Linked DNA regions of Homo sapiens: all the other regions are linked to region 3. Evidence: fine-mapped expression QTL. A gene starts in region 3. Each other region holds a variant in brackets. All regions are shown on one strand. Distances are between the middles of the regions.

Evidence for each region. PIP is the estimated chance that this variant, and not a neighbour inherited with it, causes the effect.
Region 1: its variant is fine-mapped to the expression of ALMS1 in whole blood (TOPMed, PIP above 0.99).
Region 2: its variant is fine-mapped to the expression of ALMS1 in whole blood (TOPMed, PIP 0.96).

The regions. Positions count from the first base shown.
Region 1 is chr2:73,419,992-73,431,588 of GRCh38, forward strand. ALMS1 (ALMS1 centrosome and basal body associated protein) reads left to right here. Exons shown (of 23, transcript NM_001378454.1): 4 at 2,866-2,983; 5 at 4,439-4,911; 6 at 6,462-6,562. Among named protein-coding and RNA genes, the nearest start is that of ALMS1-IT1, 31 kb to the right of the region's middle. The variant A/G (reference allele first, on the strand shown) is at 6,716.
Region 2 is chr2:73,537,524-73,549,164 of GRCh38, forward strand. The region is part of intron 12 of ALMS1 (ALMS1 centrosome and basal body associated protein); the gene reads left to right. Among named protein-coding and RNA genes, the nearest start is that of ALMS1-IT1, 86 kb to the left of the region's middle. The variant T/G (reference allele first, on the strand shown) is at 6,420.
Region 3 is chr2:73,381,239-73,391,043 of GRCh38, forward strand. It overlaps ALMS1 (ALMS1 centrosome and basal body associated protein), which reads left to right and starts at 4,598. Exons shown (of 23, transcript NM_001378454.1): 1 at 4,598-4,954. The coding sequence starts at 4,631. It overlaps LOC105374804 (a long non-coding RNA gene), which reads right to left and starts at 4,443. Exons shown (of 4, transcript XR_007087053.1): 1 at 4,215-4,443. RefSeq lists enhancers at 4,357-5,106, 5,147-5,386 and silencers at 4,357-4,756, 4,917-5,086.

The sequences.
Region 1 (11,597 bases), 40 kb after region 3:
GCCAACGTTTTCTATGATGTGGATTATTAAAGTCAATTTTAGGTCCACATTTTAAGAAAGGTTGACAAAATTAGAGTACCTTTGTGGGAGGAGAGGACTATCTTTTGATAGACAAAAGAGAAGACTTTGCTATGGTCAAATATTTGAAGGGCTGTTATGCTAAAAAGGAAGCAACTTATTTTTTATTCATTCATGTAACAAATATCTAAGTGCCTCCTATGTGTTTGATGCTAGGGGTATATAGATGAAAGCTACCTCCTCTTCTGGGAAGGCAATCCAGTAAACAGAAAATAACAGTACCATGGGATTTGTATTATAATGGTGTAGAGCAGGAGTCTGCAAACTATAGCTTACAGGCCAAGTCTTGATTTTGTACTGTCCATCTGCTGAGAATGATTTTTGCATTTTTAAAGGATTGTAAAAACAAACAACAGTAGTATGTATGACCAACAAAACCGAAAATATTTACCATCTGACCCTTTATTAAAAAAGGTTTGCTAACTCCTAGAGTTTAAAATGGATACATAACTTAAAGGGAAGCTATTTTTCAAATTGATGTAAAAAAGAGCTTTCTAATAGAGCCATTTAATACTAAAAAAGGCTATATAACAACAACAAAAAGTGAGCTTCATGTCACTGCAAAATGTCTAGCAAAATTCTGTATTAGGATTTTAGCACTGGGGAGGAGATTGTACTTCGTGACCTAAAATGTTTTCTAATGTAAAGTTTTATAACTCTGGCTTCTCATTTACTATAGTTAGGGCAGAACATTTTAAATTATTGGAGTAGATTCCTGGATCTCATAGGCAGAGGAAATTTTATCATTGCTGTTTTGTTACGCATAAGTACTAACATTGTGATAAATAGGCTCTCGCCAATGGCAAATGTAATTGATGATGGCTGGTGCCAGAATGGTTAGATACCTCAAAAAAGAGGGATGCAAGCCAGTAACAGATATCCACACTTGAGGAAACAAGAAGCAGTTGAAAGCTGTAAGAAAAAGGCATGGCAAGTAAAATACACCACCTTCCCATCACACACACACAGATAATGTTGTACACTTGAGAATCATTAACTCTTCAGCTTTGGCCTGCTCCTTTAGCAAATACATTTGCCTATTTATGTGATTTAACTGTCCAACTCCACCCTGAGATATTCTTAAATATTTAAGGAGATGCTGAAATGCTGCTTGTAACTTACTTGTTACTTACTATTCCTTACTTATACTTAAATAGCTATTTTAGGTACTGAGGATTTCTGTAGGTTCTGAAACCTAGTTAGGGTTAACTCTAATTTTTTTTGAGAAAAGACTGTCAGATTCTTTAAATACTCAGCCTGCAGTTAACTGGAAATAGTAAATTTGCTTTACTTGCCCAAAGGTCCCCCTTGTAGCATCAGCTCTAGTGTATTTGGGGACTTTGTTAAAAACTCTTCATGAGTTTTAGAGGGGTGAAGGACTGTTACGGAGGTTTAAGACTGCTTCTCTGTGCCAAGACCAAAGAGGAACTGTACCAATTGTTCCTTGGTGGCAAAGGTTATTGTTACATATCAGTTTTTCATTTTTAATTAATTCATTCAGTAAATAAATAACTCTCTTTTGAGTACCTTTTAAGTGTAGCAGGTACTTTGCTAGGCACTGAGGATATAGCTATGGATAAAGTAGACACAGTTGACAATTTAGATGGGAAGTGGATAGACTGAAGATTAAAACAAGAGGGTGATGAATTATATGGAAGGTATGCAGGGTATATAAGCAGTGACAGTATGTGTTTTGACTAAGTAAAGGACAGATGACAACATGGTGAGCTCTGTGAACTCTAGATTTGCAGTAATTTCAGGGGGAACAGTAATGTGAGAGAGGAGTCCTCACTTTGTACACAGTGTTGCAGGCATTCTGAAATCAAGAAAGTATACTGATTAAAATAAGAATGATTTAAGTCAACATTCAGGAAATCACAAGAATTTTTTTTTCATTAAAGCAGCAGTTCAAACTTTTTGGGTAACAGGATTCTTTTACACTTTTAAAAATTACTGACAACTCCAAAGAGCTTTTGTTTATTTGGGTTATTGATATTTCCCACATTAGAAATTAAAACTGAAACATTTAAAATGTATTTATTAATTCATTGAAAAAGTACATATTTTATAAAAAATAACTTTTCCAATACAAAAATGTTTAGAAGTATGGCCATGTTTTACTTAAACAATTCTATAATGTCTGACATAATAGAAAACATCAAGACTCTCATGTCTGTTTCTGTATTCAATCTGTTGCTGTATCATATATTCTGTAGCTTCTGGAAAATGTCACTGTATCTTTTTGAGAGAATGGGAGTGAATAAGGCATATGATATCTTAATATTATTTTGAATAAAATTTTGACATTAGGTACCCCCTAAGAGTGTCTTAGGGCCCAGGAGCTCCTGTGCTATGCTTTGACATAACGGGTGTAGTCTATATTATGTAAGATGGGAAGAAACACTCATAATAGTTAAGAGCGTTTGCTAAAAGTTGAAATGCTTGGGTTCAAATCTCACTCTGGCATTTCAGCTACTTGAATGTGGACAAGTTACTTAATGCTTTGTAAGTTTTGTAATCATGTTTCCTCACCTATAAGATATATATAATAATACCTATCTTTCAAGGTTGTCATGAGGATTAAATGAAATATTGTGTGTTAAGCACCTGGACCTTGTCAGACTCTCAATAAATGGTAGCTGCTACTGCTGTTGCTTTTATATTATTATTCTAATGCTTGTAGAATTCTCCATATGGCAGCATATGTAGGTGCTTTAAAGTATTATATACGTAAGTAAATAATCAATTTTCAGCATTACCCAGCATTTAATATTTGAAACTTTACAGTCATACAAGATAGCTTTGCTTCTCCTGATTTGCCTTTGCTGACCTGTTTGACACAAGACCAAGAATTTGCGCCTGATTCTTTATTTCATCAAAGTGAACTAAGTTTTGCACCTCTGAGGTAGGATGATTTATTTGCATGTAACCTTTCTCACTTCTTGTTCTATGTTTTTACTAATATTAGTGACTTCAGGCTAAGGTGGGACTTTGAGGTGGGGCTTAGATACTCTTAGGACACGCCCTGAAGGTAACAAAGTCCTGTACTAAGACTTGATGCATATTAATTTGGCAGAGTAACGTATGTGTAGAGATGAACCAGATGACAGTAGTTTATTTAAAAATAATTCCTAATATATTCAGGCATTTCAGGCATATTTTAATTTAGAAGACACACTGGATTTTCCTTCTTATAAACCTCCCCATCTGCTGCCCATCATCTCTCTCCTCCCTCTCACCCTTATTCTGCAAAAAGCATTTATTTCTTGTTCACTAACTTGTTTGGCACTCTCATTTTGTTCAGCTGTTATTGAATGAGACTAGTTAGCTCTCCTTACCTTATAGGAGGTGTCAATATGAAGTAAGAAGATTTTTATGAACAGACATATCCAAATGAACAGATACTCCAAATTCATGTCCTTTAGAATAGTCATAATGGGAGAAAAGTCTGGAATTTTCAAAACATATTTGGAATTATTCAAGAATATGTTTTCTTCTTTTAGAATTGAAAACCCACCTTAAATTAAAAACTATAGATGTTTAGAAAGTAAAAAGTAACCTCTGTCCTTATACTATATATTTACCTGATATCACTTTTATGAAAAGTGATCTATACACATTAGATCATCAACTAATGATTAAGTTACTGTTGTGTTTTGGGAATAGATCACTTCTTAAGTGGTTTCTTTCTCTTTCTCTTTTTGTTTGTTTGCTTTTTTTTTTCTTTAGATGGAGTCTTGCTCTGTTGCCCAGGCTGGAGTGCAGTGGTGCCATCATGGCTCACTGTGACCTCTAACTTCTGGGCTCAAGCAATCCTCCTGCCTTAGCCTCCACAGCAGCTAGTACTACAGGCATGTGCCACCATGCCCAGCCAATTTTTAATTTTTCTGTAGAGATAGGGTCTTGCCGTATTGCCAAGGCTTGTCTTGAACTCCTGGCTTTAGGTGATCCTCCTGCCTCAGCCTCCCAGAGTGCTGGGATCATAGGTGTGAGCCACTGTGCCTGGCCTTGCATGGTTTCAAGAGCACAATAAATGATGACTAGTAAAAAAGTTAACGCAGGTTAAATGAAAAATCATGGTAGGCGTCATTATGAAAATCACATTCTGTGTCTATTGTTTTAGGAGAAGTCTGAGATAATATCAGGGTTATAGGGTGGTAGTTCACCTTTTAGTTAAAAAGAATTTGCTTTACTCAGTCATTAGCCATCTTAGAAGAGTCTGAAATTAGGAGAGCTGTGTTTTTCAATACACTTTTCAAATAAACTTGATTTCAGTGACATATGTATTTTTGTGTTAGTACTTAAAAATTAAATGTTTTTAATGTTATTTATTTATTTATTTTTAACTATATATTTTCAGGGGAATTCCTGATAAGTCTGAAGATACTGAATGGTCTTCTCGACCATCGGAAGTTAGTGAAGCTTTATTCCAGGCTACTGCAGAAGTAGCTTCAGACTTAGCAAGCAGTCGCTTTAGTGTATCTCAGCACCCGCTTATAGGCAGCACAGCTGTTGGGTCTCAGTGCCCTTTTTTACCTTCTGAACAAGGGAATAATGAAGAGACTATTTCGTCTGTTGATGAACTGAAAATTCCCAAAGACTGTGATCGTTATGATGATCTTTGTTCATATATGTCATGGAAGACACGAAAAGATACACAGTGGCCTGAAAACAATTTAGCTGATAAAGATCAAGTTTCAGTTGCAACTTCATTTGACATAACTGATGAAAACATAGCTACTAAAAGAAGTGACCATTTTGATGCTGCTCGTTCATATGGGCAGTATTGGACACAGGAAGATTCATCTAAGCAGGCAGAAACATATTTAACCAGTAAGTACCCTGATTCTTTTTCAGATTCATCTGACACAATTGATAAAAATAAAATTCCCAAGGGAAGTAACAATTTTAGTGTCCCCTTTTCCTATGTGCCATGGAACAAAGAGGGAACTTTGCACCACCCAGAAACGTGTGTAATCAGTAAGGACTGTTTTTCCTTTCCATGTGAAGTTGCTGCTCATCATCATCATCATAAAATGTCATATTCTTTCTTGTGTTGTTTGTTGGAAAGAAGAGGAAAAGGGGTTCCCTTGACTTCTGATAGTCATTATTTTGAGAATGTTTATTTAAGGGCTCCAGCTGAGATTGAGGTGAAACAAAAGATGGATTCTTTGGAGGGTTATGAAAGAAATGAAGAAGGTTTACAGAAAGAATCATCTCAATGTTTTGAACTAACGGAGACTAGAAATAATTTAGTATCTTCAGAAGTGCAACCCAGATTCTTAGAAATACAGTATATTAGGAATGTTATAGCTCCTGATAATTCTGTAAAAGTTTCAGAAGCACATGTACTCTCCAGGGGACATAATACCTCTAAAATGGAGGCTTCTGGTTGGATTGTTATATCCAACTTGGATGAGATATCAGAACAACTGTATTTTCAAGAGGAAAGAAACCAAAAGGGAACTTCTCTTTTTGGTGAGAAAAATATTGATGCTGCTGAAAATATAGCCTTTGAGGCAGTTATTGCCTCTATTGAGCCTTCTAAGAAAGAGAGTACAGTAAATGAAATCCAAGCTGACATCAATAAATATTTAACAGATGACAGCCGAGAGAGAGCCAAAAAATCCAGATCTTTCTCCATTAAATTATAATGATGAAACCTCTTTATTTGATAGGCTTAAACATCCATGCTATCAGTCTACTCCTGGGGTGTTTGAACCAGCAGCTTCAAAACCATTGTTGCATAAAAAGGGTAATAATGATAGCTTCCTATACTGGCATCCAAATTTAAAATTACCCCCTAATGCTCTTCAGAAAATGTTCATTAAGCCACTTTGTGTTATTCCAGAGCTTAAGTCATCTGCTTCTTTGAGTGAAAAATCTTACAACCAGGCTGTTGGTCTTGGCAAAACACAGTCAGCTTTATTTCAGTGTGATATAGGCAATGAACCATTTCTTCCCTTTGGGAAGATAAAGTCTGTTCCTTCTCTTGACCTTGCAGAGAAGGTAGGATCTTCAGATGTTATTTATCATGTGAAAGTATTAACTTCAGAATCTTTGGTTTTACAAGATTTAAAGCAGCCAACCTTTGAAGAAGTTGCAGATTACTCAAACTTTAATTTGGGTAAGGATGTTAACTGTAGAAATGCCATTAAAGGTCCACCTGCAGCTGTAGGAAGCAGCTTTTCAGCAAACTTGGTGGCATGTGATGCAAAGTCACAAGGTGCTTGTACCATTGACCAGTGATGCATCATTAATTGCAGTCGCCCAAGAGACATTGCTGAAAGCTGATATAGGCCAAGGTGAAAGTCCTTCGTGTGTGGGAGCTGAGCCTAGTTTTACTATACATACAATTATGCAAAATGACTCCTATTTTGTAGAGGGCCTGCAGGGGAAGGTTGAGTCTGACGTCATTACTCTGGATGGCCTAAATGAAAATGCTGTTGTATGCAGTGAAAGAGTTGCTGAACTACAAAGAAAGGTGAGACACAATAAAATGATAGTTGTAAGAAACGTGGCCTTTTTCAGTATTGTTTCAGGAAATGGTATTGTTTGTTTTTATTTTACTTTTTACTGTTTCCTGGGTACATGACCAATGTCATTTGACTGGTGAGTACATTGAGCTAGCAGCTTT[A/G]GAGAAATTTCATGGTGATCTAGAGATGCATGACAGCTCCCTGCACTGGCAGCCTACTTTACAACTACCATCTGAGAAGGAAAGCAATTTTGAAAAGCCTGTAAGTTTTTCTATTTGACATTTTTTTCTGGGCGGGGAGGGAATGTTTTATTTGAAAAATTTCCAAATTTTATTTGAAAATACTTTATTTGAAAAATTATATCCTTCAGTACCAGCTTGTAACTTGTACCTGTTCTTCATCTGATATCCAGGAATATGTTCCATTAGAGGTTGGTATAAAAGAAATGTTTATGTTTCATAGACTGTAAGACTTAGTTCTGTGGTGTCTTGGAAAAGGCATCCCATGGGGCTCCAGGCCTTTCATATTGAGGCAGCCTAACTCTTCCTAGTTGTGCCAGCAAGAGTCTTTAGACAGTGTTAAGATTAGGCTTATTCATGGGAACATCCAAAAGCTTGTACTTTGAATGTTTCCCTCTGGTCTTCAATGCACAAGCCTTGAAACAGTCCCTGGAATATTTAAGTATTTCTGTTTAGAAGCTCTTGAAAGACTTGACTTCAGAGGTGTCTTGAAAATTGTAAGACCCATGTTTGACCAGGAAGGATAATGAAGTGCTTAACGTCCAAACTGGCCAGTGTCTCTTCAAAGGGAAGTATCTCCTTCCCAAATGAGCAACATACTAATGTATATACATGTCTCTTCCCTCTCTCTATTTATATCATTATTACCATTGTGTGTGTGTGTACTAGAAACTGGCAACTCTAGGATGTCATAAAAATTTTATATCAGCCTTTTTTTTTTAAATTAAGTTCTGGGGCACATGTGCAGAACGTGCAGGTTTGTTACATAGGTATACAGGTGTCATGGTGGTTTGCTGCACCTATCAACCTGTCATCTACATTAGGTATTTCTCCTAATGCTATCCCTCCCCTAACCCCCTACCCCGCGACGGGCCCTGGTGTGTGATGTTCCCCTCCCTGTGTCATTCTTTTATAGAAGGCTTTTATTTGCTTGGATCCTTGGATCCCTTGGCATTAATGTTCCTCTGGTCCCGTTGAATGAATATCCTCTTTTGTTGTCTGGTACTGTAAGTCCCAAGGTGGGCCCTACTTCCTTGTGATATAGCCTTATATCCTGTTATTCATTAAATACAGTTAGATAAAATAGTGATGTACTTAATGTTACTTCTCTTTTCCTATGTATAAGATTGGTATGTTTTTGTAAAGCTCTATTAGTTTGGGTTACAACCACATTTAGACCTTTAGGTTCAGATTGTTGGTAGAAAATGAACAAAGATATTATGATGAACTTTTATTTATAATTTATTACATTTATTAAAGTTTTTTTAACACAGAATCACTAGGTTTATTTTCTTCAGTATTCCAAACTAGGCATTTTTTAATTTTAATCTGATAACTGGGGATGAAAATGATAGTTAACACTTTGTGCTCAAGTACTGTGCTAAGAGGTTACATGTATATATCAATTCGTTTTTGTCCTCTGTCAATCCTATCAAATAGAATTGTTAGAGATTATTATCATCCCTATTTTGCAATTGACACTTAGAGGATTTAGGAACTTGCTCATAATTATTCAGCAATTGGGGGAACCAGTATTTGAAACTAACCATATCTGTGTACTTAACCACCATACCATAAACTGTTCCCCCTCCCCCCACCTTTTAACTATTCTTGGTGAAACTAAGGTTAAGATTTTGCATTATTTTGGCAAGAGTAGAGGTTTTGAAGGAGATTGCCTAAAGTTGAGTTCAATAACAATGAGAAACAAAGTAACAACTTTTAAAGTGTTCTAAATTTTTAATACTACTTTTGTGACTTACATCAACCTTTCATGTAGATAAAATGTATTTTAAAAATAAAGATATATAGGTTCAGTTAATGTGCAGAGACTAGCTTTGACCACTGCTCCAAATTTTAATCTGTCCTTAAATATAGCCTGAAGTATTATTCTTTCAATCTAAGGAAGATGCTATTATTCCCTGTATTGTCTTTCAGTTGTAGCTCTATCTGTCTTAGTCTTAGATCTAGGAGTTATTTAATGTCAATATCAGAAAAGCAAGGAGCCAGATGTGGTAGTACTTTTTCTGCATGGCTTAGCTTGCTTTCAGGGGCTTGCTTACTCCTTGGTTTTTCCTTATGCTCCTCATCTGTGTCACAGAAGAGTCATTCATAGTTACTTGGTTCACTTTTATATCTACTCCTCATAAATGATTATTTGGGTATCCACGTATGTATGATGGAGCTTGGAACTGTGAAAAGAACATAGAGATTTTGAGTCAAAATCCAGTTCAGTTACTTTGTTAGCCTTGTGTCTTGAGCAAATGACTTCGGAGGATCACTTTCCTGATCTGCATAAGGAAATAGGAATAGTAATAACCTTATACATCGTACTATTAAATGGGGTAAGTTATGTAGCATTTATATAGTGCCTGGTTGTTAGTTCTCTTCACTTTGCTGAAACTAGACTACTAGAGTCTCTGGTGGTTTCCTACTTTCTATCATTATTTTGTTTTTCTTTCTCCTTTTTCTTGGTAGCAGCACATAATTAATATGCTTTTTTTTTTTTTTTTTTTTGAGGCAGAGTTTTGCTCTTGTCATCCAGGCTGGAGTGCAATGGCACAATCTCAGCTCACTGCAACCTCCATCTCCTGGGTTTAAGCAGTTGTCCTGCTGCAGCGTCCCAAGTAGCTGGGATTACAGGTGCCTGCCACTATGCCTGGCTAATTTTTTGTCTTTTTAGTAGAGACGGGGTTTCACCATGTTGGACAGGCTAGTCTCGAATTCCTGACCTCAGGTGATCCACCTGCCTCAGCCTCCCAAAGTGCTGGGGTTACAGGCGTGAGCCACCGTGCCTGGCCTAATATGCTATTTTAGTACCTCTTGTTTTGGCCATTTAGCTCTAAAAATTATTTAAGGTTTAAGCCTTAGATTTCTTTTCTCTCCCCTTCATATCCCCCCACCTTTGGAGACCTAGTTGCCTGTCTCTGTGTGGATGATTATCACCTCTGTTTTTATACCCTAATATTTGTCTAATTTATTTTGCATGTTTTCTTGTGAACATTGTCATCACCCCAAATTCAACTTGCTCTATAGCAAAATAACTCATGTTTTTCCTAAAATTAGACTGACTTGTAGAGTTCCTGAGTTTTTATGAAAGGTATTAGTATTTTTCTGGTTTCTTGGTCATCTTTCATTCTTTCTTCATTATTGATTAAACATTGGGAAGATAAACGAATCTTGATTTCTGTTTTCTCCTGGTTCTTTCCATTTTCAATTAGCAATGAAGATCTGCTGGTTTCTTAAATAAATACTTCTCATATTTTTCATTTTACATTTTCTTTTGTATTACCTACTTTTTTTTTTTTTTTTTGAGACAGAGTCTCCCACTGTTGCCCAGGCTGGAATGCAGTGGTGCGGTCTCAGCTCACTGCAAGCTCCGCCTCCCGGGTTCACACCATTCTCCTGCCTCAGCCTCCTGAGTAGCTTGGACTACAGGTGCCCGCCCCCATGCCCGGCTAATTTTTTGTATTTTTAGTAGAGACGGGGTTTCACCGTGTTAGCCAGGATGGTCTCGATCTCCTGACTTCGTGATCCGCCCGCCTCGGCCTCCCAGAGTGCTGGGATTACAGGCGTGAACCAACGTGCCTGGCCGGTATTACCTACTTTAATAGTTCTATATTTTGAAACTTTAACATAATGAAATTTTTTTGACGTCAAGCTTGTAATAAAAATTTTTCTTTCTGTGTTTGAAAGCTGTAGAAGAAAAACTGCTGTAAACTATAAACACACACTGTCTCTCACAAGTGTCTATATATTATATATGGTCATGCCACATAATGATATTTCAGTTAGTGACAGACTGCATATATGATGGTAGTCCCATAAGATTAAAATACTGTATTTTTACTGTACCTTTCCTATGTTTAGATACACAAATGCCACTGTGTTACAGTTGCCTACAATATTTAGAACAGTAACATGCTGATAGGTTTGTATCCTGGAAGCAGTAGGCTAGACCATATAGCCTAGGTGTGTAGTAGGCTACACAGTTGTAGGTTTGTGTAAGTCACTCTGTGATGTTTGCACAACAACAAAATTGCCTGACAGCACATTTCTCAGAACATACCCACATCATTAAGTGATCTATGACTGCATATTATATATATGCATATATATTTATATATATTTATGTGTATGTATATATGTGTATATATATAGCCTGTACTTCAGAGAAGTTTCCTGTAGGAGTGAGGTAATTGAAAACTATGAACTTTGTGCTATGTGGAGAGCAGGGCTTCTTAGCAGCCTTATCATTTTGAGTTGGATAATTCTTTGTTATGGTGGGAGGCGTGTTTCCTGAGTATTGTAGGATGTTTTGCATCATCCATCCCTGGCCTCTATTCACTAGATACTAGTAACATCCCCTCCCCTCACAAGTTATGACAGCAAAAAATGTTTCCAGGCATTGTCAAATGTCCCTTGATGGGTACAAAATCTTCACAAGTTGAAAAGTAGAGAAACCTGTATGGGCAGTAGATGTAGATATAGAAATAGATATGGAATGTTCATTTCCACACTTCACATGGCTTCCTAAGAATGTTCATTACTACACAATGAAAAATTGATGAAAGAGGATAGAAAAATTCATGCTTATGTACATTTTTAGACTTCATCCTGAGAAGATGTGACTGAAATAATCTTTTTAGGGAAATAAAGACAATCTAAAAATGATATATATTTTTATGTGAGGGTGCACTGTGAATTTGGTGAAAAGTTGTACATGTTTAGGTATTAATGTCACCAATATTGGTTTCTAATTTCTTTTCTAGCAAGAACTTGTGACTTGATGAAACATTAGGAACTT
Region 2 (11,641 bases), 160 kb after region 3:
TAAGGAAATCCCTGTTCAGGCATTAGCTGACCATTAAGCTAATTGAGTAGTAACTTCAGTGGCCATATATAAAAAGAATATAGACTTTACAGAATTAATTCAGAGAAGTTATTAAAACAACATAAAGCAACAACACCAAACCCTGAGATGGAAGTAGAATCTGGTTTCCAGAGTTGGCGCATTGTATTACTTAAATGTCCAGGCCGGGTGCGGTGGCTCATGCCTGTAATGCCAGCACTTTGGGAGGCCAAGATGGGAGGATTGCCTGAGCCCTGGAGTTTGAGATCAGCCTGGGCAATGTAGTAAGACCCTGTCTCTACAAAAAATTAAAAATCAGCCAAGCATGATGGCCTACGCTTGTAGTCCCAGCTACTCGGAAGGCTGAGGCATGAGTATCACTTGAACCCTCGAGTTTAAGGCTGCAGTGAACTATGATTGCGCCACTGCAGTCCACTCTGGGCAACAGAGTGAGACCATGTCTCAAAGAACAAAAAAACAAAAAAACAAAGGCAACAAAAGAAAAATATATATGGGAGACTTTATCAAAATTCAAAACTTTTGTACACAAAACCCAGTCAAAAGAATGAAAAGGTGACTCACAGCATAGGAGAAAATATTTGCAAATCATTTATCTGTTGAGAGATTAATACCTAAAATATGTAAGGAACCCTTACAACTCAACAACAATAACCCAAACAATCTGATTCATAAATGGGCACAGAATCTGATGGACATTTCTCCAAGGAAGACGTGCAAATAGCCAATAAACACCTGAAAATCTTCTCTATATCATTAATCATGAGGGAAATACCAAACAAAACCATAGTAAGATACCACTTCACACCCATTACAATCACTGTTATTTTAAAAAATAAGCGGAGAGAGCCAAGATGGCCGAATAGGAAGAGCTCCAGTCTGCAGCTCCCAGTGTGAGCGATGCAGAAAACGAATGATTTCTGCATTTCCAACTGAGGTACTGGGTTCATCTCACTAGGGATTGTAGGACAGTGGGTGCAGGACAGTGGGTGCAGCACACCGAGCGTGAGCCGAAGCAGGGCAAGGCATCGCCTCACCCGGGAAGCGCAAGGGGTCATGGAATTCCCTTTGCTAGCCAAGGAAAGGAGTGACAGAAGGCACCTGGAAAATCGGGTCACTCCCACCCTAATACTGCGCTTTTCCAACGGGCTTAAAAAATGGCACACCAGGAGATTATATCCCGCACCTGGCTCGGAGGATCCTACGCCCACGGAGCCTCGCTCATTGCTAGCACAGCAGTCTGAGATCAAACTGCAAGGCGGCAGCGAGGCTGGGGGATGGGCGCCCTCCATTGCCGAGGCTTGAGTAGGTAAACAAAGCGGCCGGGAAGCTCGAACTGGGTGGAGCCCACCATACCTCAAGGATGCCTGCCTGCCTCTGTAGACTCCACCTCTGGGGGCAGGGCATAGCCAAACAAAAGGCAGCAGAAACCTCTGCAGACTTAAATGTCCCTGTCTGACAGCTTTGAAGAGAGTAGTGGTTCTCCCAGCACACAGCTGGAGATCTGAGAACGGACAGATTACCTCCTCAAGTGGGACCCTGACCCCTGAGTAGCCTAACTGGGAGGCACCCCCCAGGAGGGGCAGACTGACACTTCACACGGCCGGGTACTTCTCTGAGACAAAACTTTCAGAGGAACGATCAGGCGGCAACATTTGCTGTTCACCAATATTCGCTGTTCTGCAGCCTCTGCTGCTGATACCCAGGCAAATAGGGTCTGGAGTGGACCTCCAGCAAACTCCAACAGACCTGCAGCTGAGGGTCCTGACTGTTACTAACAAACAGAAAGGACATCCACACCAAAACCCCATCTGTACGTCACCATCATCAAAGACCAAAGGTAGATAAAACCACAGAGATGGGGAAAAAACAGAGCAGAAAAACTGAAAATTCTAAAAATCGGAGCGCCTCTCCTCCTCCAAAGGAACGTAGCTCCTCACCAGCAATGGAACAAAGCTGGATGGAGAATGACTTTGACGAGTTGAGAGAAGAAGGCTTCAGATGATCAAACTACTCCGAGCTAAAGGAGGAAGTTCGAACCCATGGCAAAGAAGTTAAAAACCTTGAAAAAAGATTAGACGAATGGCTAACTAGAATAACCAATGCAGAGAAGTCCTTAAAGGACCTGATAAAGCTGAAAACCATGGCAAGAGAACTACGTGGCGAATGTACAAGCCTCAGTAGCCGATTTGATCAACTGGCAGAAAGGGTATCAGTGATGGAAGATCAGATGAATGAAATCAAGCGAGAAGAGAAGTTTAGAGAAAAAAGAATAAAAAGAAACAAAGCCTCCAAGAAATATGAGACTATATGAAACAACCAAATCTACGTCTGATTGGTGTACTTGAAAGTGACGGGGAGAATGGAACCAAGTTGGAAAATACTCTGCAGGATATTATCCAGGAGAACTTCCCCAATCTAGCAAGGCAGGCCAACATTCACATTCAGGAAATACAGAGAATGCCACAAAGATGCTCCTCGAGAAGAGCAACTCCAAGACACATAATTGTCAGATTCACCAAAGTTGAAATGAAGGAGAAAATGTTAAGGGCAGCCAGAGAGAAAGGTCGGGTTACCCACAAAGGGAAGCCCATCAGACTAACAACTGATCTCTCAGCAGAAACTCCAATCCAGAAGAGAGTGGGGGCCAGTATTCAACATTCTTAAAGAAAAGAATTTTCAACCCAGAATTTCATATCCAGCCAAACTAAGCTTCATAAGTGAAGGAGAAATAAAATCCTTTACAGACAAGCAAATGCTGAGAGATTTTGTCACCACTAGGCCTGCCCTAAAAGAGCTCCTGAAGGAAGCACGAAACATGGAAAGGAACAACTGGTACCAGCCACTGCAAAAACATGCCAAATTGTAAAGACCATTGAGGCTAGGAAGAAACTTCATCAATCAACTAACGAGCAAAATAACCAGCTAACATCACGATGACAGGATCAAATTCACACATAACAATATTAATCTTAAATGTAAATGGACTAAATGCCCCAATTAAAAGACACAGACTGGCAAATTGGATAAAGAGTCAAGACCCATCCGTGTGCTGTATTCAGGAAACCCATCTCATGTGCAGAGTCACACATAGGCTCAAAATAAAGGGATAGAGGAAGATCTACCAAGCAAATGGAAAACAAAAAAAGGCAGGGGTTGCAATCCTAGTTTCTGATAAAACAGACTTTAAACCAACAAAGATCAAAAGAGGCAGAGAAGGCCATTACATAATGGTAAAGGGATCAATTCAACAAGAAGAGCTAACTATCCTAAATATGTGTGCACCCAATACAGGAGCACCCAGATTGATAAAGCAAGTCCTTAGAGACCTACAAAGAGACTTAGACTCCCACACAATAATGTGAGGACTTTAACTCCCCACTGTCAACATTAGACAGATCAATGAGACAGAAAGTTAACAAGGCTATCCAGGAATTGAACTCAGCTCTGCATGAAGCAGACCTAACAGACATCTACAGAACTCTCCACCCCAAATCAACAGAATATACAGTCTTCTCAGTACCATACCACACCTATTCCAAAAGTGACCACATAGTTGGAAGTAAAGCACTCCTCAGCAAATGTAAAAGAACAGAAATTATAACAAACTGTCTCTCAGACCACAGTGCAATCAAACTAGAACTCAGGATTAAGAAACTCACTCAGAACCGCTCGACTACATGGAAACTGAACAACCTGCCCCTGAATGACTACTGGGTACATAACGAAATGAAGGCAGAAATAAAGATGTTCTTTGAAACCAGTGAGAACAAAGATACAACATACCACAATCTCTGGAACACATTCAAAGCAGTGTGTAGAGGGAAATTTATAGCACTAAATGCCCACAAGAGAAAGCAGGAAAGATCGAAAATTGACAGCCTAACATCACAATTAAAAGAACTAGAGAAGCAAGAGCAAACACATTCAAAAGCTAGCAGAAGGCAAGAAATAACTAAGAGCAGAACTGAAGGAAATAGAGTCACAAAATACCCTTCAAAAAATCATTGAATCCAGGAGCTGGTTTTTTGAAAAGATCAACAAAATTGATAGACTGCTGGCCAGACTAATAAAGAAGAAAAGAGAGAAGAATCAAATAGACGCAATAAAAAATGATAAAGGGGATATCACCACCGATCCCACAGAAATACAAACTACCATCAGAGAATACTACAAACACCTCTATGCGAATAAACTAGAAAATCTAGAAGAAATGGATAAATTCCTCAACACATATACCTTCCCAAGACTAAACCAGGAAGAAGTTGAATCTCTGAATAGACCAGTAACAGGCTCTGAAATTGAGGCAATAATCGATAGCTTACCAACCAAAAAAAGTCCAGGACCAGATGGATTCACAGCCGAATTGTACCAGAGGTACAAGGAGGAGCTGGTACCATTCCTTCTGAAACTATTCCAATCAATAGAAAAAGAGGGAATCCTCCCTAACTCATTTTATGAGGCCAGCATCATCCTGATACCAAAGCCTGGCAGAGACACAACCAAAAAACAGAATTTTAGACCAATATCCCTGATAAACATTGATGCAAAAATCCTCAATAAAATACTGGAAAACCGAATCCAGCAGCACATCAAAAAGCTTACTCACCATGATGAAGTGGGCTTCATCCCTGGGATGCAAGGCTGGTTCAACATTCGTAAATCACTAAATGTAATCCAGCATATAAACGGAACCAAAGACAAAAACCACATGATTATCTCAATAGATGCAGAAAAGGCCTTTGACAAAATTCAACAACCCTTCATGCTAAAAACTCTCAATAAATGAGGTATTGATGGGACATATCTCAAAATAATAAGAGCTATCTATGACAAACCCACAGCCAATATCATTACTGAATGGGAAAAAACTGGAAGCATTGAAAACTGGCACAAGACAGGGATGCCCTCTCTCACCACTCCTATTCAACACAGTGTTGGAAGTTCTGGCCAGGGCAATCAGGCAGGGGAAGGAAATAAAGGGTATTCAATTAGGAAAAGAGGAACTCAAATTGTCCCTGTTTGCAGATGACATGATTGTATATCTAGAAAACCCCATTGTCTCAGCCCAAAATCTCCTTAAGCTGATAAGCAACTTCAGCAAAGTCACAGGATACAAAATCAGTGTAGAAAAATCACAAGCATTCCTATACACCAATAGCAGACAAACCGAGAGCCAAATCATGAGTGAACTCCCATTCACAATTGCTTCAAAGAGAATAAAATACCTAGGAATCCAACTTACAAGGGATGTGAAGGACCTCTTCAAGGAGAACTACAAACCACTACTCAATGAAATAAAAGAGGATACAAACAAATGGAAGAACATTCCATGCTCATGGGTAGGAAGAATCAATATTGTGAAAATGGCCATACTGCCCAAGGTAATTTATAGATTCAGTGCCATCCCCATCAAGCTACCAATGACTTTCTTCACAGAATTGGAAAAAACGACTTTTAAAGTTCATATGGAACAAAAAAAGAGCCTGCATCGCCACGTCAATCCTAAGACAAAAGGACAAAGCTGGAGGCATGACGCTACCTGACTTCAAACTATACTACAAGGCTACAGTAACCAAAACAGCATGGTACTGGTACCAAAACAGAGATATAGACCAACGGAACAGAACAGAGCCCTCAGAAATAATGCCGCATATCTACAGCTATCTGATCTTTGACAAACCTGAGAAAAACAAGCAATGGGGAAAGGATTCCCTATTTAATAAATGGTGCTGGGAAAGCTGCCTAGCCATATGTAGAAAGCTGAAAGTGGATCCCTTCCTTATACCTTATACAAAAATTAATTCAAGATGGATTAAAGACTTACATGTTAGACCTAAAACCATAAAAACCCTAGAAGAAAACCTAGGCAATACCATTCAGGACACAGGCATGGTCAAGGACTTCATGTCTAAAACACCAAAAGCAATGGCAACAAAAGCCAAAATTGACAAATGGGATCTAATTAAACTAAAGAGCTTCTGCACAGTAAAAGAAACTACCATCAGAATGAACAGGCAACCTACAGAATGGGAGAAAAATTTTGCTATCTACCCATCTGATAAAGGGCTAATATCCAGAATCTACAATGAACTCCAACAAATATACAAGAAAGAAACAAACAACCCCATCAACAAGTGGGCGAAGGATATGAACAGACACTTCTCAAAAGAAGACATTTATGCAGCCAACAGACATGAAAAAATGCTCATCATCACTGGCCGTCAGAGAAATGCAAATCAAAACCACAATGAGATACCATCTTACACCAGTTAGAATGGCGATCATTAAAAAGTCAGGAAACAATAGGTGCTGGAGAGGAGGTGGAGAAATAAGAACACTTTTACACTGTTGGTGGGACTGTAAACTAGTTCAACCATTGT[T/G]GAAGTCAGTGTGGCGATTCCTCAGGGATCTAGAACTAGAAATACCATTTGACCCAGCCATTCCATTAACTGGGTATATACCCAAAGGATTATAAATCATGCTGCTATAAAGACACATGCACAGGTATGTTTATTGCGGCACTATTCACAATAACAAAGATTTGGAACCAACCCAAATGTCCAAGAATGATAGACTGGATTAATTAAATGTGGCACATATACACCATGGAATACTATGCAGCCATAAAAAATGATGAGTTCATGTCCTTTGTAGGGACATGGATGAAGCTGGAAACCATCATTCTCAGCAAACTATTGCAAAGACAAAAAACCAAACACTGCATGTTGTCACTCATAGGTGGGAATTGAACAATGAGAACACATGGACACAGGAAGGGAACATCACACACTGGGGCCTGTTGTGGGGTGGGGGAAGCGGGGAGGGATAGCATTAGGAGATATACCTAATGTTAAATGACGAGTTAATGGGTGCAGCACACCAACATGGCACATGTATACATATGTAACAAACCTGCACGTTGTCACATGTACCCTAAAACTTAAAGTATAGTAAAAAAATAAATAAATAAAAAAGCAAAGAATGGAAAATTATCAGTGTTGTCAGGGACATGGAGAAATTGGAACCATTGCTTATTGCTGGTGGGAATGTAAAATGGTATAGCCATTACGGAAAACATTGTGGCTATTCCTCAAAAAATTAAACATAGAATTATAGTATGATCCAGTAATTCCACTTTTAAATATATACCCCAACAAAGTGAAAGTAGGATCTTCAAGAGCTATTTGTACACCCATGTTCATAACAGCATTATTCACAGTGGCCAAGAGGTGGAAACAACCCAATGTCTATTGATCTATGAATGGATAACAAAATGTGACATATATGTGTAATGGAGTATTATTCAGCCTTAAAGAGGAATGAAATTCTGGTACATGCTACAACATGGATGAACTCTGAAGACATTAGGCCAACTGAAATAAGCCAGTCTGCTTATATGAGGTACCTAGAAAAGTCAGATTCATGGAGACACAAAGTAGAATTGTGTTTACTAGGGGCTGGGGCTAGGGGGAGTGGGAAGTTACTATTTAATGGGTACAGAGTTTAAGTCTGGGAAGATGAGTAGGTTCTGGAGATAGATGGTAGTGATGGTTACATAACAGTGTGAATATACTTAATGCCACTGAAGTGTACACTTAAAAATGATTAATTTTTTGTGGTTTTTTTTTTTTTTTTTGAAACAGAGTCTTGCTTTGTTACCCAGGCTGGAGTACAGTGGCACAATCTCAGCTCACTGCAGCCTCCGCCTCCCAGATTCAAGCAGTTCTCCTGCCTTAGCCTCCTGAGTAGCTGGGATTATAGGCACCCACCACCACGCCCAGCTAATTTTTGTATTTTTAGCAGAGATGGGGTTTCACCATGTTGGCCAGGCTGGTCTCAAACTCCTGACCTCAAGTGATCTTCCTGCCTCAGCCTCCCAAAGTGCTGGGACTATAGGCGTGAGCCACCGCACGTGGTCATGGTTACATTTTATGTATATTTTACCACAGTTAAAAAAACTTAAGAAGTTACCAAAAATCTTAATTGAATTTTAAAAGTAGATGTCTATGTTCCAAATCAGGGTTGAGTATACGAAATTAGCAAAGTAACAGAACGAGAAATACAGGAAACTTTAAGATAGCATAAACAGTTAAATCAGATGAGTGGAATTCGGTGAGATGTCTTTAGCTGTGATAAATAATTTTAGCATATGTTGATATTGTCTCATGCATGTATTTAACTTAAGCAAGTTCAAATAAATATACTTAACAAAAGAGGAGAGAAAGAATTTTAAAAGTGCAGGTGTTTTGTGCATGCACTCTACCCTTTATGAACATATGACTACGGAAGAATATGTAATGAAAGATGGGAAACTTCATTCTCAAAATTAATTGTAGTCCTCGTTTGCCTTTTGTAGTGTAGGCATCTTATCTTGCTTATTTGGGTATGATTCTAGAGTTTGAAGAAATGTCTTTTTGGTACAATATCAGATACTTCATCAGGTGCTCAGATTCAGGTGCAGTGCTATGTTACAAGCTTGGAGGAAAAAGTGGACCCTCATGGGTTTCTTGAGCAGACACGATGTCAATTTCAACATATGCCTTCCTAAGGTACCTTCAAGGGTGATTTTGACCCTCTATAGCAAGGTTTTCACCTCACATGCTGACTTTAAACCCTGAATTCCATTTAAAATGTATCTCTACTTTAGTGAAAAAATAGTAATGAGACTGTATATGGTATGATCCCTGTAAATGTTCACTTAGTAGGATATATAACCAAGGTTTAGTTGGGTTTTCTTTTATTGTTTCCTTCATACTTTCCTGAATTTTCTACAATGATCAGGTTGTTTTGTTTGTTTGTTTGTTTTTAATGATGGGAAGCTGTCAGCTCACGTTCATTTGTTTATTCAAACAATAGGTATTAAAGATGTTACTGTGTTCCACGCAGATACACTGTGGTAGGTGTTACAATTTCAGTATTGCTCAAAATAAACTATAATGGAGTTTATGTTCACGTTGGTTGACAGATATTAAACAAATAAACCATAAATAAGTACGTAATTACAAGTGATAAATGCTAAGAAAATAAGAAGAGTTCCAAGATAAACAAGTAGACCCAGTTTTGTTTTACGAACTTATGAAGATCTTTTCCAGGAAGAAACTTTTGAGCTGAACTCTAGAGGATGGGAATGAATTAGGTAGGCAGAGAGTGGAGTGTGAGAATGTTCCGGCGAGAGGGAAGAAGATGGGGAAAGCCCCTGAAGCAGAAAAGAGCTTGATGCATTTGACAAATGGAAAGAAGGCAGCGTGGGTTGAAATTCCAACAAATTTAAAGATCTGATTGGTTTTTGTAGTGATTCATGAATCAGGCAACATCCCATTCTATAATATGGAAAGGGTGCACTGGGCATGGGAGAGAGTTGGTTCTGGTAAGGTAGCCAGACCAGGAACAAGGAAACACAATACAGACAGTCCCCAATTTACAGTGGTTCCGTTGAACTATTTTTTGACTTTATGATGGTATGGAAATGATACACATTTAGTAGAAACCGTACTTCAGTACAGTATTTAATAAACTATATGAACTATTTGATACTGTATTATAAAATAGACTTCATGTTAGATGATTCTGCCCACCTGTAGGCTATTGTAAATGTTCTGATTATGTTTAAAGTAGGCTGGGCTAGGTTATGATGCTTGGTAGGTTAGGGGCATTAAATACATTTTTGACTAACAGTATTTTCAACCTATGATGGACTTACCAGGACATAACTACATTGTAAGTGGTGGATCATCTGTAATACCAAAAAAAGCATATTGATTAACATCAGGTTACTTACCTGGTAAAGATTAAAGCAGAGATAAGTTCCTTTTTACGCCAGCTCAGGGTGACTGGCCCCTTTTTCAGTTAGTTGCTGTGAATCTCTTGTTTTTAGAAAAAACTGGTCCATTTTGGAACTTTCCTTCTTTCTTAAAGTTTCAGTTGGATTGTATGGCATTTAGTACAAGTGACTACATTTTGGTTTGGTCTCTTGGGGCTTAGTGCAGGAGCTCAGTCTAAAACAATGGACTCCCATAAATTTTATTTAACAGGGTAGAGCATAGTGATGGGTAGATATGGTTAAAGATAGGTGGGTTCAAGATCATGCAGGATCTTATCAACTGTATTAAAGTGTTCGGATTTTATTCTAGTACTACTGCAATTATGGTTTGATTTATACTTGTAAAGTTTATTCTTGCCACTATATGGAGAAATGGTTTATAGATGGGAAGGCGGAGAGCCATGGCGGGGCGGGTTAGAGTGCAAGTAGAGACACCAGTTAGTTAGAAGGCTGTTGCTTTAGACAGTACCAGAGATGGTAGCATGAGTATCACAGTGTTATCTATAGAGATAGGGAGAAATGGACAGTCAGCATCCTTTTAGAAATAGTTTCTCCTAGATTTGGTGATAGGAGTATGGAGAGTGAGGGAGAAGAGCGTGAAAAAAATGTCTGGCGTGAGCAACTAGGTGAATAGAGGTGCCATTTACTGAGGTGGAGATTGAGGAAAAAGCAGATTTGGGGAAGATGATCAAAATGTCTGCTTTGGACATGTTAAAAATGAGATTCCTATTATACATCCACATAGAGATGTTGGGTCTACAATTGAATGTAGGCAGAGTTAATTTACACATGTTAAGGTAATAGTGCCACATATAAGGTGGCATTATTCACATTATAAATATATACTTTTATGAAAACATACAGATGGGCATGAATATTCCAGATCTTTAGTTAGAGTTCTGGAGCAATAATGTTAACTCTTGTGCTGCCCCAAACATAAATCTATACTCGCACATACTATAGCTATGCACAGGTACAGGAAAATAAGTATATGTACATTCACTGACACGCACACATGTGTGGCTGCACTCTCTCAGCTGCCTCTCACCTCCTCTGAGGTTGATTCTCTTGCTTATTCACCCACTGCTCTCAGGGATGTAATTGTTCCTCACCTGACTCTGAACTTGAAAGGGTCATCTCTCTTGGAGAACGAGGGGTGGTGGTGCAGACTGTGCGTGCACATGCTGCTGCTGGTGTGTACTCCCTGGGAGAATTTGTGAAAAGAATGACCACCATTTACAGTTGTTTGTGTTGTACTACAATATATAGTAACTTAAACATTTTGATTTGAAGAAGACACATCTTTTCTAATTTCCATAAAAGTGCTGTAAGAGCTAGCCGTGTCCCTGAATGCTGGAGTCGGATGCTCAGAAGAAAGGTACTCTTGGGCAATGGTACATTATTTGTTGGTCATCAGCATATACCTTGGTGGTCGATAAGTTTACCTAGGAAGAGAAGAGAGGCCAGTTCCGACTCCTTAAGGAACTCCACCATTGAGAGATTTGGTAGAAGAAAATATAAAAAATAAGTTTCCGGAGAGGTAAGAGGCAAATAAGAGAAAGTGATGTTACAGAAGTTGAGAAGAACCCAATATAATCTATTTGGCCCAGAAGGCTTGGTGTTTTCCTTGCAGTCTGTCCTGCAAAACTCTTCAGGGCTTACTGTGCACTGTACTAATGATACAGGTACTTACCCAGCTCTTATTGCCATATACATACTAGGAGCTCAGGAAATAGAGGATCTTAGAAAAATCATCTCATAGGAGATTAGTATAAGCCTTTA
Region 3 (9,805 bases):
ATACAGTGATGGGCTGGGCACAGTGGCTCAAGCCTGTAACCCCAGCACTTTGGGAGGCCAAGGCGGGTGGACTGCTTGAGCCCAGGAGTTCAGGACCAGCCTGGGAACCATGGCGAAACTCCATCTCTACCAAAAAAAAAAAAATTAGCTGAGCACGGTGGCACACACCTGTTGTTCCAGCTACTCAGGAGGCTGAGGTGAGAGGATCACTGGAGCTGGTGAAGTCGAGGCTGCAGTAAGCCATGATCGTGCCACTGCACTCCAGCCTAGGTGACAGCAAAAAAAAAAAAAAAAACAAACCACAGTGATGGTAGAGCTATAATTGATTTAAAAAAACAGCCATCAAATTAACTGGAAAAGGAGGGTGTTTGATGTGCACAGTAACGTTGTTTTTGTCTGTGCTTAGGCAAGGTTATGAAATGGTCTTGTCATGTCTCGTTTCTTCAGTCACAGAAAGACCATGTGTGATGTCGGTGTTCTGTGAGATTATTTATGCTCAACAGGAGAATATTGAGGGATGATGGTGAATGCCAGGCCAGCATGTGACAACCCTGAGGCTTAGTTACCTGTGTCAGACCAGTTCCCAGGCACCCTAGATTTATTTAGTGAGTCCTCCAGTTGGTCAAGGGTAGACAAAGTCAGGCCACAGGACCATTAATCTATGATATTCAGATTTTCACTATTGCTAAATTTATGCTGATCTGGAGGATGCAGTCTGTAGTTGGGTTAATTCCGCCTTCTGTTGTAGGATTTGTTGAATCATATGATATGACAATGGCTGTGCAGAAACTAGGGCTGTGGATAGGATACGTTGACCAAGTGCAAAAGAAGCAATTACCAGAAACAAAATGATTATCCATCTTTGTAAAAAGTCTTGAAGACAGGGACCCAGATTATAAAGTCCTGGCAATGAAAACATGCCCCAGAATCCAGCTGAGTCTGTTTTTAGGGAGCCAGGAGGATTTTCTCTTTTCAGTTTACTCATGTTCTACTGACTCTGTAGTATGTTCTACTGGCCCAGTAGTATGTGAGTATGGTGACAAGTGTTGCTAAATACAAACTCCTCCTTGGCCAGCTAAGAAGAAATCAAGGGTTATATAATTATCCATGAAAACTCTGGCTAAGGAATTCAAATTTAAGTGGTTTTCTGAGCTGCTATAGCAGAAGTTTTGCTATCTATGGGGTCTGCTAAGGTCAAATACCTCTCTTGGATCTGATCTCTTTCTGTTGTATTATCTTTGTTGTAGGAATTTCATTCACAGAGTACACATGAAAAATGAGTCAGTTATCCCTCCTGGGAGTTCTCCCAAGTAGTCTGTGATTGTGTGCTTGCTTCATTTTGTTGGTTTCTGGGTGTTCTTTTCAAAGAAACACAGTCTACTGGAGGGGTGGTAATTTTAAGCACTGGAGGGTCTCTAACAATTAGCTTCAATATAAAGGGTAAGTTAGTGGGCAAGCCAGATGTTCCCATAAATAAGTAGTACCCTAGGGGAGTACAGACTGCATTGGGAGGATAAGGGCTATTTAGCACATCAGGGACAAGCCAACTTTCTTTCCCTCAGGATAAGCAGATTTCTTGGATGAAGTTAAACAGGTTTCTCCAAAGCAGGCTGGAATGTTTTGGAAGAGAATGACCTGAGTAGTGTATAAAGAATAGCCCCAATATTAGTTTCTATTCCTGAAGGGCTAGGTTTTTCTCATAGGATTGTAATGACTTCAGGGAAACATTCTGTTGAAGTGTAGGTCAAGGTCCAATTTTTAGAAGACTGAGGTTTGGGATGAACTTTGTGGGGAATGCTTAAGTACCAGAAGTGACCTACAGAAGAAAATCTACTTGATGAAGTCTATGAAAGCACAGTTATTAAATTTTGTCAACAATTCCTTAAAAGCAGTAGCTACGGTTTGAGAAAAACACTCCAGAAAGTGTCTCTTTTCTTTTCTTTTTTTCCTTCCCTTTCCTTTCTCTTTCCCTTTCCCCTTTCCCCTCCTTTCCTTTCCTTTCTCTTTCTCTCTTCTCCCTTTCTCTCTTTCTTTTTTAGATTGGGTTTCACTTTGTTGCCCATTGGCACGATCACAGCTCACTGCAGTCTTGGACTCCTGAGCTTCAAGGACCCTCTTGCCTCAGCCTCCTGAGTAGCTGGGACTCCAGATACGTGCCACCATGCCCAGCTAATTTTTTATTGTTTTTAGAGATGGGGGTCTTGCTACATTGCCTACGTTAGTTAGACTCCTGGTCTCAAGTGATCTTCCCACCTTGGCTTTCTAAAGTGCTGGAATTACAGGTATGACCCACTGCACCTGGCCAAATAATGTTTACTTTAAGTAGTAGAACATAGGGAGTCAAAAGTAACAGGATGAAGATAAGGGTTATCTCCCCGAGAAATCAATTTGTTAGTTAATCAAGGGTGTCAAAATGCAATAAGCAAGATTAGTGGTAGGGTAAGAGATGCCAAGGAATCAGAAATTAATCTTGTCCTGTTGTCTTGGGTATAAACTGCCCATTTCTGCAGTAAGCAGCTTCTGGGGAAGTCCCAGGAATCTTCAGTTTGAGGTCTTCCAATAGTATGGGATGTCCGGTAGCCAGGAGAAAATGATGCATGTCTTTTTAGTTGTGTAATATGAATCCAGGGATCAATGTCTTCTAGTTTTACTCCTGGGTCAGTTGTTGATAGTACCTGACATTTTTTTTTCTTGCATTGAGGCTCAAGGGAAATTGTTTTCTAATGCTTTTTCAGAAGACCAAATCTCTAACTTCAGAAGCTGCTTAGGTGGGTGCTTTGAGAATGCAGCTTCCATCTGTTGTTGATAAAGCAGGAGTTAATCTTAGAAGTCTCCTGCAGCAATTAGTGATAACAGCTTATATTAGTAGCATCTAGTATTGGAAGTAATTCACAAATACATGAGGAAGCCTGTTATTAACTCAGAAGGAGATAACTTATGGGCCTTAGAATGGACTGACCTTATTGCCATCAAGGCAAATAGAAGTACTTTGGGCTTTGGAAGTTAGATGGAAGTTAGAGAACTTTGAAAGCTATTTTTTAGAATTCTATTAGTTCTCTTTATCTTTCCTGAAATTTGTGGATGCAAAAAGATAGCGGAGTTTCTAAAAAGGTAAAGCTTTACAGTTATTTAATATCAGTGAAATGTGTGTCCTCTTACTGGAGATAAACATTGAGATTTCACATTCAGGAATACAAAATTAATAAATTCTTTTCTACTATTACAGTAATAGGTCTCCGGCAAGGAGAACCCCTAAACCCCTTAAGAATAAATAACCCTAATGTACTCATAGTCCATTTAGAGGTGTTCAACAGAACTCCAAGACTGGGCTCCAGTTCATGTTCTACCCTTAAAGTTTTGCCAGGATTGGGTCATTGACAGGTAGGCAGGACATACATCCTTGGCAATAACCCTAAAATTGCCCCACCAACATTGGTTCAGCATCATTATCAATGTATCTCTACTATTGTGGGTAATACCATGAAGACTTTTTGCTGGACTCCACTTTAATTATGGCTATTTCCTTTGGTAACAGTGAAGCATCTCAAGATTATAATTATTATTTAAAATTTTAATTTAAAAATTTTCCCCATAGGTTATTGGGGGTACAGGTGGTGTCTGGTTACATGGCATCTTAAGATACTTTAATTTGCCATTCATTTCGTAGAGGTTCCTGAAGCGGTCAGGAAATCTTTGTTTTTAAAGCACTCCAAAGTCATTGACGAACCACCAAAACATATGTACTATCAGTATAAATATTTGCTCTGTTATCCTTTAACAGCTGGTTGGTCTAGGCCAGGGCAATTCCTACACTAACAGAGGACCTGGGATGGCATACTGAGTCAGCCACTTACTAGGTAAGAAACTTTGGGCAAATTAATTTTTTTAGCCTCAGATTCTTCATACATGAAATAGTAATACTTGTCTCACAGAACCGTGAGCATCTAATGAGTTATTGTACAATAACCAACCTATCACTAAGTCCTTCACATTGATTATTTCCTTTAATTATCACACCCATCCTATGCGATGGCCTATTATCATCGTTTTATAAACACAAAGTCACACCACTTTAAGTGGTGATGCCAGGATTCAAACTCCGATCTTTCTGATGCCAGTGCCCAGTTCTTAATCCCTCTAACAACCCGTGACACTTTTCCACGGTTAGGTTCAAGCGCCCACCATACAGCTTGACACTTTAGGAGATACTCAACCTTTAAAACTTTATAATTTGCATGTGTGATTATAACGGGTACGTCCTAGAGTTTGATCTCTTCTCTGTGCAGGGGCGAAACTCGACCCCAGCCGAGAACTACACTGTCCTTGCGCGGGGCCCTCTGCGCCCCGGAAGGCGCCCAGTCCCGGTTTATTGTGAGCTTACAGTACAGTTCGCAAGGTCCCGGCCGGTGACGGCGGCGAGGCGGCAACGTCGCCTGTAGCAAACCTCCGCCCTAAGGCGTTCCCGCCGGGCCTCGCGCGGCGTCCCTAGCAACGCGCGCGCGGTCTTCCGGCCCCGCCCAGGCGGGCGGCACTGCGCCTAAGCTGGGCCACAACCGCCAGTCAGGGCTCTCCCCTTCCCCTCCCTCCCCCCCTCCTCCTCCTCCTCTGCCGCCCAGAGCGAGACACCAACATGGAGCCCGAGGATCTGCCATGGCCGGGCGAGCTGGAGGAGGAGGAGGAGGAGGAGGAGGAGGAGGAGGAGGAAGAGGAGGAGGCTGCAGCGGCGGCGGCGGCGAACGTGGACGACGTAGTGGTCGTGGAGGAGGTGGAGGAAGAGGCGGGGCGGGAGTTGGACTCCGACTCTCACTACGGGCCCCAGCATCTGGAAAGTATAGACGACGAGGAGGACGAGGAGGCCAAGGCCTGGCTGCAGGCGCACCCCGGCAGGATTTTGCCTCCGCTGTCGCCCCCGCAGCACCGCTACTCGGAGGGCGAGCGGACCTCCCTGGAGAAGGTGAGGCGGGCCGGGGAGGGGTGTGGAGCCGCGGCGAGTTGGGGGTGGAGGCTGGGCCCCGAGCGCTCCGCCCGCCCGCAGGTCACGCCGCCTGACGGAGAAAACGCGCGCAGCTGAGGCTAGTAGGCGGCCCAGACTCCAGCCCAGGTGCCGGCCGGCTGCTCCGCGTCTCCCAGGCTTTGTGGCAAAGACTTCTCGTTTCCTCCCCCTCGGTGGGTCCTGGGCCTTTTGAACTCCCGTAGACGTTCAGGGGAGCCTGCATTCCCCGTGAGAAACGCTGAGAGAGGACCACGGGTGTGTCGAGCCTTGAAGGAGGGAAAAGGCGGTGTAGGACCGGAGCGAGTGGTTGCCTGGGGAGCATCTTGTTGGGGAGACAGTGAACAGATGAGCTTGACTGAATTGCAGGACTCCCCTGAGGGAGTAATGTGGATAATGTACACCGCGCGATCACTTAGTCTGGAGAGGCTCCCCGCGGGTTTTCCTCCCCTGGACCATCATTTGTAGCAATAAAGGGGTTCCCCAGCCGATAGGAGGGGCTTGGAATGCAGGAGGCTTGTGATGCGGCTCCAAACAGTCTGCAAAACTACAAAGCACAGATAATACACAATGGAGAAAGCCGATTTCATGGTAGACCCCCGAAGATCATTTTGAAAATAACTCTCCATTTAATTTGCTGCCCTTACCCCCCTTTTTTTAACTTACTGCTTTTCGAGGAGCAAGACCTGCCCTGCTCAGTACAGTAGCCACTGGCCACGTGTGGCTTTTTACATCTTAAAGAGAAAACTATTATAGTTTTGAGTAAGAGTTAAAAATAAATTAAATGAAAAATTCCATGCGTCTGTTCTTACCGGTTTTCAAGTGCTCAGCAGCCACACTAGGCTAGTGGCTACCATGTTGGACAGAGCAGATAATGGAACAGTTCCATCATCACAGACAGTGAAGGTGTAGAGTTTTGTCACTAATGAGCAGTAGTTGTTGTTTTGTCTGGTGAATATTCCAGGGGGTACTTAATTCATTGAACATGTATTATTAGAATTCACCATGTGCCACACATTGTGCTGGGTGCTAAGGAAAGCTTGGTGAACCCAAACATTTTTGGTCTCTGCCTTCCTTGTGTTCATGGTCTAGACAGGGAGGCAGACAGATTTCAGATGATCACATAAAGTGAAACTAATATATGTGCTAATATTCTATGAAAGCATAAAGTAAGATAATCTGGCCTTGTCAGTGAAGTTGGGAAAGCCTTCTTGAGGAGGTTATGATAGAGCTGATATCTGAAGACAGTTTAAGGTTAATCAGGCAAAGGGGAGGGAAAGAGCCGTCTAGCTGAGGGAAAAACACATGAAAAGGTACTGTTGATGAGAGAGAGCATGGCATTTTCCAGGACCCAGAAGCCAACGTGGTTTGAGCACAGACTGCAAGGCTTTGTGTGCTATGCCAAGGATTTAGGGGCTTTATCTCTGGAGCTTTGGGGAGTTGAAGAAAATATTTGAAACGAGGGGATGTATGATAAGTTAGGTGTTTCAGAAAGGTCAGGTGTATAGCAGAGTGTGGAACAGCTGTGATAGCAAGGTGGGATGGGGAGCAGTAGCCATAGGTCAAGGGCATAAATTAGGAGACCATTGCAGCATTGCCCGGCAAAAGATGATGAAAGTTTGGAATAGGGAAGTGTTGGTGGATACAGGGAAAAGTGGACTGATTTGAGAGATATTTAAGAGGCAAAATCATCATACTTAATAACGGATGGGATGTGAAAGGTGAAGTAGCCAGGTGTTAGGTTATTGTTTGAATGGTTGTGCCAATATTAAGATATGGCCAGATTTATGGTGGAGGTGGTGGCTGTGAGTGGGTGGTGGAATTGGTTGGGTGAGTCTTAAGATTATGAGTTTGGTTTTGAAGATTGAAGGAGAAGGCTGGGCTAGAGATTTCAAGTTGTAAGTCATTTACATAGAGACCATAATTAAAGCCACACTTGTTGACTAGGTCTTCTAACTTTTATTTTGTCCTGTGACTTCTTGCTTGAATAACTATTAATATTCAAACTTTATCTTGAAGCCTAGAGGAGGAGTTTTTTAAACAAAATTTTAATTTAATTTTAGATTTGGGGGTACATATGCACGTAATTAACATGGATATATTGCATAATGGTGAGGTTTGGGCTTCTAGTGAACCTCTCACCCAAATAATATACCTTTGTACGTGATAGTGTAACATTGTACTTGATAGGTAATTTTTCAGCCCTTCTCTCCTCCTTCTGGAGCCCCCAGTGTCTGTTTATTTCCATCTTTATGTCTGTGGGTACTTATTGTACCCATTTATCTTTATGCCTCTGTGTACCCATTGTACCCACTTGTCTTACCAGTGAGAGCATGTGGTATTTGATTTTCTGTTTCTGAATTGTTTCACTTGATAAATAGCCTCCAGGCTCCATCCATGTTGCTGCAAAGGACAGGATTTCATTCTGTTTATAGCTGCATAATATTCCACAATGTATATTAATACATACTACATTTTCTTTACCCATTCAGTTGTTGATGGACACTTAGGTTGATTTCATGACTTTGCTATTGTGAACGGTGCTGTGATAAACATATGAGCACAGATTTTTTTCTTTTTTTTTAATGGCGTCTAGCTGGTGTAGAACACCTGGGCTCAAGTGATACTCCGCCTTGGCTTCCCAAAGTGCTGGGATTACAGGTGTGAGCCAGTGTGCCTGGCTCAGATGTCTTTTTGATGAAATGATTTAATTTCCTTTGGAGAGATACCCAGTAGTAGGATTGCTGGGTCAAATGGTAGTTCTGTTTTGAGTTCTTCAAGAAATCTCCATACTGCTTTCCATAGGAGTTGAACAATTTACATTCCCAACAACAGTGTATACGTGTTCCCTTTTCTTCTCATCCTTGCCAACATCTGTTTTTTGACTTTTTAATAATAGCCATTCTGACTGGTGTGAGATGGTATCTCATTGTGATTTTAATTTGCATTTCTCTGATGCTTAGTGATGTTGAGCATTTTTTCATGTTTTTTGGCCGCTCGTATGTCTTCTTTTGAGAAGTGTCTGTTCAGTCTTTTGCCCGCTTTTTAGTGGGGTTATTTGTTTTTTCTTCCTGTTGATTTGTTTGAGTTCCTTATAGATGCTGGATATTAGTCCTTTGTCAGATGCATAGTTTGCAGATATTTTCTCCCATCCTGTAGGTTGTCTGTTTACTCTGTTGGTAGTTTATTTTGCTGTGCAGGAGCTCTTCTAGTTTAATTAAGTTCCATTTGTCTGTTTTTATTTTTGTTGCATTTGCTTTTGAGGTCTTAATCATAAACTTTTTTCCTAAGTATTCTTTAGGATTATTATAATTTCGGGCCTTACATTTAAATCTTTAATCTATCTTGAGTTAATCTTTGCATATGGTGAGAGATAGGGACCCAGAGGAGGAATTTTTAAGCTAACCCTCTTTTACTACAGCCAATGTGAGAAAATTATTTTCCTGTTTAATAATGAACTATCTTTTTTTTCCCCCGCCGAGATGAAGTCTTGCTCTGTTGCCCAGGCTGGAGTGCAGTGTCACGATCTTGGTTCACTGCAACCTCTGCCTCCTGGGTTCAAGCAATTCTCCTGCCTCAGCCTCCCGAGTAGCTGGGATTACAGGTATCCACCACCACGCCTGGCTAATTTTTGTAGTTTTAGTAGAGATGGGGTTTCACCATGTTGGCCAGGCTGGTCTTGAACTCCTGACCTGTGATCTGCCTGCCTCAGCCTCCCAAAGTGTTGGGATTAGAGGCATGAGCCACCGCGCCCGGCCTCTAATCGTGAACTATCTATGGGTAATAGAAAATCTTACTTCTGAGAGCCCAGAGTATTTTTTCCTCCCCACAGTTTTTTCTTTCCCCTGAGAAAAATTAGATATTTTCTTATTTACCTGAGAGAATATATGATAATATATAGAATATATAGATGATTTTCTGTATTAAAGGTAGATTTACAATGATACAAGGAGTGTTCAGATAATTTTTCCTTTAGTTCACTGGCATATTGAAACTTACTGGCATAGGTTGGAAAGTGTTTAAGGAAAAAATGCTTAGTATGTTTCTTGCTAGAAATTTATGAACTATGAAATTCTTAGATGTGTTGTATAACATCTAATGCTGCGTATTTAGAGGATGAGATCAAATAATAGGAAACATTAATTTCATCCAGTTTACTCTCAAGTTAAATGACAAAATTGTGTTATTCAATTTACTCTCATATCTCACTAGATAATAAGGGAGTTATAGTGGTGTTATATAAGGCAGTGATTAAGTTTGTAGTCCTGTTACTAAGGCTGAGTTAAACTATGATACTGTTTAAATTTGAAGCAAAATATGACCAGTCTTATAACTAAGTCTTTTTAAGAGGGAAGTGAGTGATTCAGAGCCTTATGTTGTTTTTATGCTGGTCCTACAGACCATTCAGGCACTTCTTGTAATTCCTTAACCTGAATTTCTGAGTTGTGCTGGGGAAGATAATTCAGTTCTCTGGGTTGGCATCACTAGAAATTCTTGGTCTCCAACTTTTAATTGGGTCATCAACAGTGCTTGGAAATCTTTTTTTTTTTTCTTTTTAAGATGGAGTCTCTCGCTTTTGTCACCAGGCTGGAGTGGCAGTGGCCCGATCTTGGCTAACTGCAACCTCCGCCTCCCGGGTTCAAGTGATTCTCCTGCCTCAGCCTCCGCAGTAGCTGGGACTACAGATGCGCGCCACCATGCCCAGCTAATTTTTGTATTTTTAGTAGAGATGGGGTTTCACCATGTTGGCCAGGATGGTCTTGATCTCTTGACCTCAGGTTATCCACCCGCCTCGGCCTCCCAAAGTGCTGGCAT